4 separate regions of the Homo sapiens genome follow, and all the other regions are reported to be linked to region 4. Evidence: microRNA targets listed by miRTarBase, many of them from high-throughput screens and not tested one by one. Region 4 holds a microRNA gene; each other region holds the end of a gene's coding sequence.
The links. The annotated mature microRNA hsa-miR-5580-3p reads CACAUAUGAAGUGAGCCAGCAC and lies in region 4 at 1,209-1,230, opposite strand. An mRNA with a match to its seed (bases 2 to 7 or 8) in the 3' UTR can be bound and repressed. Matches are read on the target gene's strand: a 7mer-m8 pairs with bases 2 to 8, a 7mer-A1 pairs with bases 2 to 7 and ends in A, and an 8mer does both.

Region 1 (3,231 bases), not on the chromosome of region 4:
AGGCCCTGGCCCTCCCGATCCCCTTCTGCCCTCAGTGGCCCAGGCTGTGCAGCACTTACAAGTCCAGGAGCGCTACAAAGAGCAGGAGAAGGAAAAGCACCACGTGCACTTGGTGATGTACCGTCGCCTGGCACTGCTCCAGTGGATCCGGGGCCTGCAGCATCAGTTGATTGACCAGCAGGCCCGACTGCAGGAGAGCTTCGACACCATCCTAGACAACCGGAAGGAGCTTATTCGCTGTCTCCAGCAGAGGGCAGCACCATCCAGGCCCCAGGACCAGGCCTAAGGGTGTGCCTCCACAAGTGTGCAAGGGTATATGTATATATTTGCAGGCATGTGTGAGGCGCACTAGTAAGTACATAATTTGCTGGCATGATTGCAGGTAGGCATGAGTGTGTATGTGCTAACATGTAGGCTGGTGTGTGTAGGCATGTGTGAATAAGCATGTATAAATGAGCTTAAGTGTGCTGTGTGCACATGTGTACACACAGCTAATTTATCTGCAGACCTATATGTGAGCATGTAAGAGTGAACATATGTGTGTGTGTGTAGTATGTAAGAATGAGGAACTCGGTATGTGCATGTGTAGACAGGTACCCAGCAGTGTGTGTATATGCGCATGAGTGAGGATGTATAGGCAGAAGATGTGTGTGTCTATGAGTGAGTTTGAGTGTGCAGGCTTGTATTAGGTGTATGTGAGGAAGCCCTTGTGTGTGCAGGGGTGCACATGTTTGGCCACAGGCATGGGAGGTGTATGTTAGGAGCATGTGTGTTTGTAGGCAGACTCATGAGCAGGTGTGTGCAAATACATATCCAGCTGCACTGTGGGTGTCCACCCACACCTTGTGTTCCTCATGGCCTACCCCAGCCTTTCTTCTCCACTGGGTCCCACTGTTCCCTGGAGACAGAGGGCTAGCATGCTGTCATTTATCTGAAGGTTGTGGCTGACCCATTCTCCTGGGATTTCCCAGGCCACCTCTCCTTTCCCTTTCCCTCACTTAACCCAGACTTGCTCAGCTGAGGCTATTGTCCCTGATGTTGGCTTTACTTGTAGGAGGTTTAGTGGCTGCTCTGGCCTGCCATGGAATTTTGGCTGCAATTTTGGCAGTGTGTGGAGAACTGGTATCAGGAAAGGGAACCAGGAGTAGTGATGAAGATGATGGTGGGGATGGGGACAGAGGACATAGGGGACTGTCCCTCTTGAACTCTGCCTTTGGGCACATGGGAGATGGGGACAGGAAAGATGATAACAGTGGAACCCTGTGAAGAATAGGAGAATGGGAATTCTAAAATACCAGTTCCCAAACAAACCATCTCTCCATTGGAAAAGGAGCTGTTGCAAACCGTGTTCATTTAAGCTTCTGATGAAAAGCAATGTATGTTTATAAGCTTGCAAGTAACAGACAAGATGTTCCAAGGCCGATGAGGAAAATATCGCTTCCCTGTCTCTGCCTCTACCTTGCTGTGCCTCTCTGGCTTTAGCAGCATTGGATGTTGAATTGGTTTGGTTCATTTCTCTGAAGTCGGACTGTCAGGAGGAGCCAGAGGTTGGCTTTCTGGGATGTGAAGGGGACAGTGTCAGCCTAAGCCTCTGGAGATGCTTAGGATGCTGAATTTTAACCCCTTCTTTCACTGCATGGCCCTTCAAACAGGGATTGGCAGGCTCCGCGAGTTACAGAGTGGGTGAGTCTTGGAGAGAACCAACGACTAAGGTAGCTTAGCTCTCTGCTTTGTTCTTGGGAGCCAAGAGAATGCAAGATCCTGGTGGGTGAGCAGTGGTATGAAGAGGGGACACTGGTGGGTGAACAGTGGCATGGAAGTCACTGATGCAGCCTCTGGCCCTCAGTCTCCCTATCGGCAAAGTGGGGGGCTCTTCCTATCTCTAAAGAGTTTCATCCCTGACAGGTGGATGGGTGAAAGATCCAGAGAGTGGGGGTGAGGGGTGGGCCCTGAAGACTTTTTGTCTGTAGCTCTTGCATATTGAGTGTATAAACCCGGCTTCTGGACCAACCCAAGATGAATAAACTGGGGCAGAAAATTACATTTCTTGAGTATGTGTTTTTCTTCTACCTGTTGTCTGATGGCCTCTTTTTCATACCATCTGAGCTCCCCTTTTGAGTAGGGTCCTGGACTAGGAGCTAGGGAGGTGGTTTTGGGGAAAGACACTGAAGAATTTAGACTGCTGTGCCTGGCGATCCAATGGGGTGGAGAAGTCTCTCAGGGGCCATCCAGTGTGACAGGGGAGACTTGACTTCTACCCTGAGAGCCCCATATGGGATTGTCCTTGTCCTGTGTCACCTTTGGGCCTAAATGAATTGCGAGGGACACATACCATACACACTCGTACATACTCAACTGTACCCTGGGCAGGGCACGGTGGCTCACACCTGTAATCCTAGCACTTTGGGAGGCTGAGATGGGTGGATCACCTGAGGTCAGGAGTTCAAGACCAGCCTGGCCAACATGGTGCCTGTCTCTACTAAAAATACAAAAATTAGCCAGACGTGGGGACGGGTGCCTGTAATCCCAGCTACTCAGTAGGCTGAGGCAGGAGAGTCGCTTGAACCTGGGAGGCAGAGGTTGCAGTGGGCAGAGATCGTGCCACTGCATTCCAGTCCGGGCAACAAGAGGGAAACTCCATCTCAAAAAACCAAATAAAACAAAAAATAAAACACCAAGTACCCTGGTGTCATCACTTCCCTGAAGGGCGCTCTGACTATGACTATGATTTCGGGTCCTTAGATGGTTTTGACACACATGTAGTTATAATATACAGTCATCCTTTGTTATCTGAGGGGATTGGTTCCAGGATCCCCAGGGATACCAAAATTCACAAATCTGAAATACTGTATTTTATTTTTATTTGATTTGATTCTTTATTTTTGGAGACAGCGTCTCCAAGATACGCCCAAGCTAGAGCATAGTGGTGCAATCATAGCTCACTGTACCCTTGAACTTCTGGGCTCAAGTGATCCTCCCACCTTAGCCTCTGAGTAGCTGGGACTACAGGCACACACCACCACACCCAGCTAATTCTTAAGTTTTTTGTAGTGATGGCTTCTTGCTATATTGCCCAGGCTGGTCTCAAACTCCTGGCTTCAAGCCATCCTCCCACCTGAGCCTCCCAAAGTGCTGGGATTACAGGTGTGAGCCACTGCGCCTGGCCAACATTTTTATTTTATTTTATTTTATTTTATTATTATTATTTTTTTGAGACGGAGTCTCACTGTG
Region 2 (3,231 bases), not on the chromosome of region 4:
GCTGAAAGATTGCATCTGAGGAATGTTTTTCTTTTCTTTTCTTTTCTTTTTTCTTTGCACTCTTAGTAAAATCTGTGAGGAATATTTTTACTCCTATAATTCTTCTTTTGTGTTCTCCTCTGCCCTCTTCCCTTTTTACACGTTACCAACAAAATGGGCAATGAATTGGTAGTTTTAGCCTCTCAACCCAGACCCTCCTTATCCCCCGCAACCTCTATTCCCTCACCTCACTCTGGGTAAGTCTGGTTTGTGTACCTTTCCTTCCTCATTTCAGCACTTATTCCCTTTTACCTGCTCTTGGCAAAGGGTCAGAGCTGATGTTTTTGTTAATAGCCACAGTCACCTGCCAGACAGAAATGTTGCAGGGAGTCTAAAACCAATAACTTGTAACCTTGCCTAAATCAGGAAGGGTTGGGTTATAATAGAGGAATAAACAGAACACATTCTGAGTGACATGTGTCTTCTCTTTCTAGACGGGGAAATCCTTTACATTTATGCAAAGAGCGATTCAAGAAGATTCAGAAGCTCTGGCACCAACACAGTGTCACAGAGGAAATTGGACATGCACAGGAAGCCAATCAGACACTGGTTGGCATTGACTGGCAACATTTATAATTATTGCACCACCAAAAAACACAAACTTGGATTTTTTTAACCCAGTTGGCTTTTTAAGAAAGAAAGAAGTTCTGCTGAATTTGGAAATAAATTCTTTATTTAAACTTTCCTTCCCAGTTTTATAGTTTCTGGTTCTGAGGACTGATGAAAATCATCTTCCATCAGCAGATTTTCTTGCACTGTTTGCTGTGCCCCTCAAATATAATGTCTTGGGTTTTAAGATCGAGCAAGGAGCTTCTCTTCCTAGATTGGATCCCAGCCCCTTTGTGGGGGTCTGACTGCATAGTCCCAGCCATTATGTGATATTTCACGTTATTGATGATAGTGAACCGTGGGTCCGAAGCTGACTCAACGGAGGCAGGGAACAAAGTCTCTGTGGTCTGTTGGGTCATACTTCCTGGTTCCACTGAGTGGCCCAACACTGGGACTGGGTTGGTGTCCCCTCTGCTGACAGGACCCTACTCCTAGGAGCAAAGTGGTTGATTTTGAAGGCAGTGTTCCCTTCTCTCCATTGACTATGAGAGAGTTGGGGGACACACATGCAGAAGAAGCCCGTGGGGAGAAGGTGGATTCCTGGTGTGCTGGCTGGTTTTTCAGGGCTGTTAGAGGTTTTTTTTTTTTCTTTTTTTTTTTATGGCAAGACTTTTGGCTTTGAGAAAACTCACTTAGAGGGCTTTCCAAAAACTTAGGATGGTCTAAAAAATTAGGATATTCTTTTAGAATTAGGAAGAAAAATTAGGATATTCTAAAAGAATATGGATTAAAAATTTAGGATATTCTTTTAGATATCCTAATATCTAGATGAGAGGCCTTCCTTCATAAGATCTGGTTGTTTGGGCTGTGGTTGGCATAAGTGATATTTATTTTGGCCTCTGTCACATCCAGTTTCTTGAGCTTTTAAGGTAAGCTTCTTTTGGCTTTTTTTCAGATGTTCACCAAGCTTAAGTTTAAAATAATAGGTATTCTAAAAGAGTATCCTAATTTTCTTATCTGTATTCTTTTAGAATACCCTAATGTTTCAGACAGTGATATTCTCTTGTTATTTCTAAGGCTAAATTGGCAGAGTATATCATCTAAAGCCAAACACTGAAGAAGGTGAGAACCCACTCCCACCCAGCCAGCATTTCCTGGAACAGACAAGCTGCTGCTTCCTTGCTGGCTCACTTAGTGCATTCCTGGGATGGTCTGGCACCCAGGCTTTTTATTCTTTTTGATCATTGTTCTTACTGAGGTGCCTTCCTAGAACAAGAGCCACTTACAAAATAGCTTATAATTATTATGTACCACACAACTACTATTGTTTGATGTATGACTGCTGAGAGCTTGAATACATGCAGAGAGTGACTGAAGACTTAGTAGAGGAATAAATTCTGAGCCTGTCTAAGGTGGGGCTAAGGAACAGATGAGTAATAAGAGGCTCTTGGATTTTTTTAACCAATGCAACTGACCCTTTCAATCAGTTTTCTTTGAATTACATCTACAAGTTTTGTTCCACTCAGCTACCAGTCAACTAGGCATGCTCCACAGTATCACAGGAAGAAGGTCAGAAATCTGGAACTGAAGCTAAAAGAAGTGAGGATGTAGAAGCCACATTCCTCTCCAAGGTAGTGTGTGAAAGAACCGCCCCCTCTTGACAGGAGGATGACCGTCGCCATTCTTGCGTGGGACTGACTCACCCAGCTGAGAGGAGGACCAATAGAAAGAAAATTCACATTTGAGTCCACCTCTCTCCCCCTTTTTCTGGCCTTCATTCATAAGATCTGGTTGTTTGGGCTGTAGGTGGCATAATTCATGTTTATTTTGGCCTCTGTCACATCCAGTTTCTTTAGCTTTTAAGGTAAGCTTCTTTTGGCTTTTTTTCATATGTTCACCAAGCTAAAATTTAAAATAATAAGACCAGGTTTCTCTCTGTACAAGTGGATTATAAACATTTTCACCAAATCATAACAATACTCCAGCTTTCCGGTCCGACTTCCTAGGAGCCTGGAGTTAGCAAAGGTTGTCTCTGGATTTCATTCTCTGAGAATATCACAGAGCCTGGGAGAAGATGAATTTACATGAAATTGCAACATACACACCTTTTTATTTTCTGGTGTTAAGCTAGTTGTCTTTCCTACCTTACAAATCATGTTAGTTTTATGATTTGTTCCGCATGTTTTATGTTTATTGTAGAAATGTTTATATAACATACGCTTTCCATATCAGGGAAAATCATATCTGTTTAATAAATTGGCTATAACTTTAATATCTGTGGACAACTTGTAAAATTTGGAATGTATCATATGTAAAAAGTTTAAAGATATCCAAATAAATGCTTTAGGTGTTGGCATTACTTTTGGTTAGCATATATCTTTCTGTTTCATTTTACACATTTACCTGCCACAGCAAGGTGCCCGTGTCACCTTGCTACAAATATAGTGGGATATCTGTATTAGCTTTAAATTTAAGAGGGTTATATTATTATGGCCACTAGCCAAACTATCTTGACCTTCTCAGAGAAAGTGTGATCATCATTTCAGCTGATTAAGTTTCATATTCATTAGCCATGACAGCGTGTGACCTTTGTGGACCATTTTGGAACTCAAATCACTGGGAAACAGGGCACTCCAAGACCTG
Region 3 (3,000 bases), not on the chromosome of region 4:
TGTGAGTTAAATCTTCATATATCAAAGTCAACAGACGTTCTGGTTGGTGACATAAAAATACAGGTTGAGCATCCCTAATCCAAAAATTCAAAATCCCAAATGCTCCTAAACCTGAAACCTTGAGCACCAATGTGATGCCTCAGATTGTCCACATGTGACTAAGATAGTGACACCTTAGTTTTCAGACAGCTCAAGGTACACAAACTTTGTTTCATGCACAAAATTACTTAAAATATCAAAACTTATCTTCAAGTTGTATATGAGGTATAATGAAACAAATGAATTTCATGTTTAGGCTTGGGTCCCATCTCCAAGATCTCTCATTATATATTATGCAAATATTCCAAAATCCAAAAAAAAATCTGATATCTGAAACATTTCTGGTCCCGAGCATTTCAGATAAGGGATACTCAACCTGTATATGATGGCAGTGAACAGAAATTGTTAATAATAGCTGATTGTTGGATGTGGAATGGCAATTTGGAAGGGGAGGGGCAGAAAAATATTGCTTTCTATTATAAATGCTTCTATGGCATTTTCTTTTCTAATTTATGCATGTTACTTTGATAATTTTTAAAGAGATGATTCAAACCTATACCTAGAAATGAGGAGAGTAATTAAACATAGGGACATTTACAGTTCATCTGTAATGGTGGTAGATGTATGATACATTTCCTTTCCTTTTTTATATTTGATTCAGTAATGCTACTATGGTAATCTGACAAATCAAGCAAAAGCTTAAAAGGAATCAGTTCAGAGGGAGCAATCTGTTAAAAAAAAAAAAAGCAATGAAAAAAATGAGACAAGACTGGCCTATACTCTTCCTAAACGAAACTAGAAAATTAAGACATACAGATATTACAAATAACAATCCAAACACCTTCATTCATTTAGCCTTTCCCAGAAGTGAGATAACAGAAGAAAAGTGAAATATGTCCCATATTTTTATTAATTGAACTTCCCTTTTTGAGTTTTTCTTGTTGTCAACATTTTTTCTTTTTATTATTATACTCGAAGTTCTAGAGTACATGTGCACAACATGCAGGTTTGTTACATATGTATACATGTGCCATGCTGGTGCCCTTTTTGAGTTTCTATGTTCTTTGTATTCTTCTATTAGTATATCCACATATAAAGAACACTGATAACCACTGTGGTCACAGTAATATTTTTCCTTGTCTACTTTTCACTATTTTTTATGTAGGCAACTAATCTTTCCTTGAGTGATCAAATCTGTTGTTTCTTTTTTGATTTCTGTTCCTTAGCTTAAAGTCAACCCTTCAAAGGGTTAATATTTAACTATTAGCTTTAATATTTTATAATTCACATGAAGTTAATTTTAAATATGGCATGAGGTAGGCATCTACCCAGTTATTCTAACACTATCTGTTGATATGCCTTCCTTTTTCATATGTGATGCCTCATTTATTAACTAAATTCCTATAACAAGATATACATCAGGGACATGTCACTTTGGATTGTTTAGGTGAACAGTAACACTTAATACCAATCATTTTTGTCTCCCCAGTATTTACACCTCACTGGGTCTTAAATATTTGGGTTCGTTCATTTAACAATTAATTAATAACTTCGGGCTGGGTGCGGTGGCTCACGCGTGTAATCCCAGCACTTTGAGAGGTGGAGGCGGGCGGATCACGAGGTCAGGAGTTCGAGACCAGGCTGGCCAACATAGTGAAACCCGTCTCTACTAAAAATTAGCTGGGCATTGTGGCGCGTGTCTGTAATCCCAGCTACTCGGGAGAGGCTGAGGCAGGAGAACTGCTTGAACCCGGGAGGCAGAGGTTGCAGTGAGCCAAGATCACGCCATTACACTCCAGCCTTAGCAACAAGAGCAAGACTCCGTCTCAAAAAAAAAAAGAACTTCATTATTCTAGGCATAGTAAGTTCAAGATATATAATGGAAAATGAAGAAAGACAGGGTTCTTTCATCAATCTTAAAATATGAATCAAAAACTTATGGAAAGAGTAAGCAGCATTGTTTTTTGTTGATAAACGGGTTTGAGTTCTAAGATTGATTTTCATTGCCACATCTGTGCAGTAATGTTTATACATTAATATTTAATTTATGTAAGACTTTGTTCACTGCACTGGTTACGCAAGACACAAAAAAACAGTTTCAAAAATATAGGAGTTTGGGCTAGGATATGCAACAAAGAAAAATTTAAAGTGCTGATGGAAAACTTAAGGGAAAAGTGTTTCATCCTTTATTTCAAGGAAAGATTGTATATTATAAAAATAAACATTGTTATGCCATTGAGTACAGAGCTCCCATCACAAACATTTAACCATTTTCATCATACATCTGATGATCTAAAAATCAAAATCACTTTGAAAGGCTTAAGTATTCTACTTTCTCTTAAAGATTATCACATTATAGTGACACACTACTGTTTTAAAGACTCAAGTAAAAATGAGACCCAGTAATTTTTAACCAAAAGTGTATCATATCCTATTTGCTTGTTTTATAAGATCAATAAACACTATAGTAAGACTTGGCATTTAAACATTAAACATGTCTAAGCCCCCTAAAGAATATACCAGAAATAAGAAAGACATTTAGAATGCTTTAATATTCCCAGTTAACACCATTTGTATCAGTAACTGCAATGTTGTAAGTTTTAGCATCTCACATAACTAGTCAGTAAGGATTTTTTTTTTAAGTGTAGGAGTGAGAATACAAGGACAGGAGCTATGAGAATGTTAAGTTTTATACTTCTGTTAAAAACTCAAAAATCAAAACTATTTTCTTCTCTGCATCAAAACCACAGACTTGAAGGATGTTTTGGCTTTAATCCCATGACTCATCATCTACTGGATTGGGAGCTTGTGAAGAAGAAAACCCAGCTGTGTTCAAAGTGCTCTTGCCCTGGTAATTATTTAAAAAAAAAAAAAAAGAAACAAACAAACATTTAATTTTATGACAGCTTTAAAGTTACATCACTCAGACTGAGAGCAAGGACTCAAAGTATCTACCATGTC
Region 4 (3,231 bases):
AGCAGCTCCTCTGATGTGGTTACGACTTTGCCGAACTCCTCAAGGGCGAGCTTCCCTCCCCATCTTTCTTTCAGTAATAGGAACATTACTCTGGAGAAAAAAAAAAAAAAAAAACATGAATGGGGTGAAATGGTAGGCTTGATCCAAAAGCAACGCCGAGAATCACCCTACGACTTCCGTCAGGTACTGAACTGAATATTAGGCAAAAATAGTAAATGCCGAAACCTAAATCACACACATCCAATTTTTTTTATTTTTTTTTTAATCTCCCCGGGTCTCAGGACTAAGCTTTCAAACAGAATTTAAAGAGTTAACGCTGGCCATAGCTCTTTGTTTTCCATGCTAACATTTGTGGCATTAGGACTATTTTGTTAACTAGGTATATGCAATTCACAGAATTTCACGGTAAATTCCCCAGACCAAATATTTGGCTGAACAAATAAACAACATTATCCATTCCTGAAAATAAGCCAGTAGGAGCGGGGAGGATGGAGGAAGGGGCTGGTTGCTAGAACTGGACAGCCACAGGGCTCAGTACTGGCCCTAGGATAATTTGTTCAAGTACTGGAGATCTACTGGTTCCTTTTCAATGACATCGACGTTTCAGAAAGTTGCTAGAAATTGGGCAAAACAAAATGAGGCTGCCTGAGGGCAATCTATAAGGGGCTTCCCTAAATGATTTATTTGAGCTCCATACCATTAATCAAAGGGGCAGCGACCTGGGGGGTTGGAGGGGTGGGGGAAGGATCCCTTTTTGCGGGGAGTTTTGGAGGAACTGTGTAGTCTTGCTGCCTTTGCCTGGGGCTCTGATGTCTTCTCTCCACCTGCGCTCTCCGGGGAGCTGGGGTTTTGGCAACCACCCCGCTTCAATTTTTATTGGTTTCCACTAAGCTGCTCCTTTTGGAGGAGTGTAGGACTTCAGTAATTAAAAACAAAAATGAATCCTGCTTCACCCACTCCACTCCCAGGAGCGTATGTAAGAAAGTGTGTACAAGAATGCAAGGGTGCACACCCCACCTAGAAAAATGCAAACGCCAGGAGTGTGCACCACACACATTCTTTGGGTGCACACACCACCAGCAACAGCAATACTACCGCTCATATCTACACCTTCATGATGGAGAAATGCGCTATCAGCCTTCCCCACAGAGAACATACAAAGACACTAAATGTTTCTGCTCCAAAGGGATCCAAAGGGATCTTGGTCTGTGCTGGCTCACTTCATATGTGTGAATTTTCTCAGCACACATATGAAATGAGCCAGCACAGACCAAGATTCAAGGCTTAATTTAGTTGTTGGTGGCAAGTAAGAAAAAGCAAAGGCCTCTCCTCTGCTCCTCTTAATCCCTACACCCGTCATTCCAGAAAGGCATTTATCTGCCTGCTGGGAGCCCTTAACTGAGGGTACATTAGCATCCTCCTTTTTATTAACTTTGTCCAAAAATTGAGCTTTTCCCTTTAAGAAACCCTAGCACAGAACATCAGATCTACCTCTTTCTGCCCAAGTCCAGGGAAGAGGGTGTGAGGGAGGCAGTACAGAGCGAAAAGGAGAGTTGACATTTGACTCGAGATTTCTGTATAATAGTGGGACACCTTCACAGTGCCTGCTTAGAAATTCTGACCCTTTAGTATCTGACCCCATTGTCAACCCCCACCCAGCCCAATCTGTTGGGATCCTAAACTTGATGAAGGCCTTCACATTGGGAAAAGAGGACAAGGGAAAAAGTCAAGAAACAATGGGAAATTCTATCAAGTGGCATATTAAAACAGTAGTCATCAAACTTTTTGAAGGTAGGGTACATTATTTGTTACAAAAAAAAAAAAAAAAGACAAAATAGCAGTGCATGCCTGTAATCCCAAAGAGGCCGAAATGAGAAGATTGCTTGAGCCCAGGAGTTCAAGACCAGCCTGGGGCAACAAAGAGAGAACTTGTTTCAAAAAAAAAAAAAGACAAAAGAAAAAACAAAAGAGTCCTACCTGGAGAAAAAAAAAATAAGTTTAAAAACATGCCTTCACACACACATTATGATGTTAGTGTACAAATTAGTTTTGATTTGGAAATATCACATTGGTACCTGTAATAACTGGAGATACCCTGAGGTATCATGAAAGCAGAGGTGGGTATCATTTTTCTAGGGTTGAGACCTCATCACGCTCAGCTGTGATACACCTCAACAGGTGAGTGAAACAGAAGATGTACAAGGGGCCTGAAATGAAGTCTTTAATCTGACCTACACTCCTTTCATCCCAGTGTTTCTCCAAGGCATGTGTCATCCAGATGGGAGAGGATACTGCATCCTTGTTAACATTAAATAGAAATAGAAAACAATTCATGCTGGCAATTACCATCTCTCTCTGCCAACAGTTTACTTCCTGTCCCTACAACTTAACCACCTCCAGGTACCACCTTTTGACTTCCATCCAGCCTCCAACTCACCTGAACAGAAAAAAGCCTCATTCAAAAGAGATGAGCCCGAAGGAAAAGAGAAAGGATTAAGGAGAAAAAAAAAATCATGATTTACCTTTAAAATAATGACTCATTTTATTTTTTTCTTTTAATACGTAGTTATAAATATATTTTGTCAAAATATATGATCAATATGGTCAAAACATTTGCACGTAAAGTCATAAATAAGGTCAAGGTGAATGTTTAGGGATTTTTTCCTTTTTTTTTTTTTTTTTTAAATAAAAGTCCAGCTATAAGGAAGCAGTCTGTGTAGTGTGTGGGTGAGTGGATGGGAACGTGTGTGTGTGGTGTATGTGGTGTGTGTGTGTGGTGTGTATATCTGTCTATCCTCAAGGACTGCCTGATCTCAGCGGCACCCACATCCCTCTACTACCATCTCCTGATAATTTTTCAGTACCACCTTATCATACTCATCCAGGTACAGCATGGAGATGGCACTCAGTTCAGTGGGCACACAACAGGCTTTGGGGATACTGGAATTGACAGAATTGACCAGGGTCTGCACAATGGCATGGTTGGTTGAGTTGAGGTGGTCAGCCAGTGGAAAGGGGCAGTCCCCATGGCAGTAGAAGGCCTGGTAGCCTGGTGGGGCCACAATCCAGTCATTCCAGCCCACATCGCTGAAGTCCACATAGAGCGAGTGGCGCCGGCAGTTCTTATTCTTCTTCCTGGCCCGCTGTGAGTGATGCTTAGGGCTACGCTTGGCCCTCCGGCGTCGGGTCAAGGCATGGCCCCGGCCATCATGGCCAAAGGTGACCAGGAGG

Region 1: the mRNA of C1orf216 is a reported target of hsa-miR-5580-3p. Seed matches in the 3' UTR shown: 7mer-A1 at 315-321 and 7mer-m8 at 534-540.
Region 2: the mRNA of UBR2 is a reported target of hsa-miR-5580-3p. Seed matches in the 3' UTR shown: 7mer-m8 at 2,476-2,482 and 8mer at 2,895-2,902.
Region 3: the mRNA of DDX4 is a reported target of hsa-miR-5580-3p. The part of its 3' UTR that is shown has no 7-base or 8-base seed match.

What each region holds. Positions count from the first base shown.
Region 1 is chr1:35,712,687-35,715,917 of GRCh38, reverse strand. It overlaps C1orf216 (chromosome 1 open reading frame 216), which reads left to right. Exons shown (of 2, transcript NM_152374.2): 2 at 1-2,041. The coding sequence ends at 286. Among named protein-coding and RNA genes, the nearest start is that of C1orf216, 4.6 kb to the left of the region's middle. RefSeq lists an enhancer at 116-410.
Region 2 is chr6:42,690,559-42,693,789 of GRCh38, forward strand. UBR2 (ubiquitin protein ligase E3 component n-recognin 2) reads left to right here. Exons shown (of 47, transcript NM_001363705.2): 47 at 474-2,947. The coding sequence ends at 615. Among named protein-coding and RNA genes, the nearest start is that of PRPH2, 30 kb to the right of the region's middle.
Region 3 is chr5:55,816,350-55,819,349 of GRCh38, reverse strand. It overlaps DDX4 (DEAD-box helicase 4), which reads right to left. Exons shown (of 22, transcript NM_024415.3): 22 at 2,193-2,887. The coding sequence ends at 2,810. Among named protein-coding and RNA genes, the nearest start is that of IL31RA, 34 kb to the left of the region's middle.
Region 4 is chr14:53,947,219-53,950,449 of GRCh38, forward strand. MIR5580 (microRNA 5580) reads right to left here and starts at 1,266; the gene lies at 1,209-1,266. It overlaps BMP4 (bone morphogenetic protein 4), which reads right to left. Exons shown (of 4, transcript NM_001202.6): 4 at 2,518-3,231. The coding sequence ends at 2,814.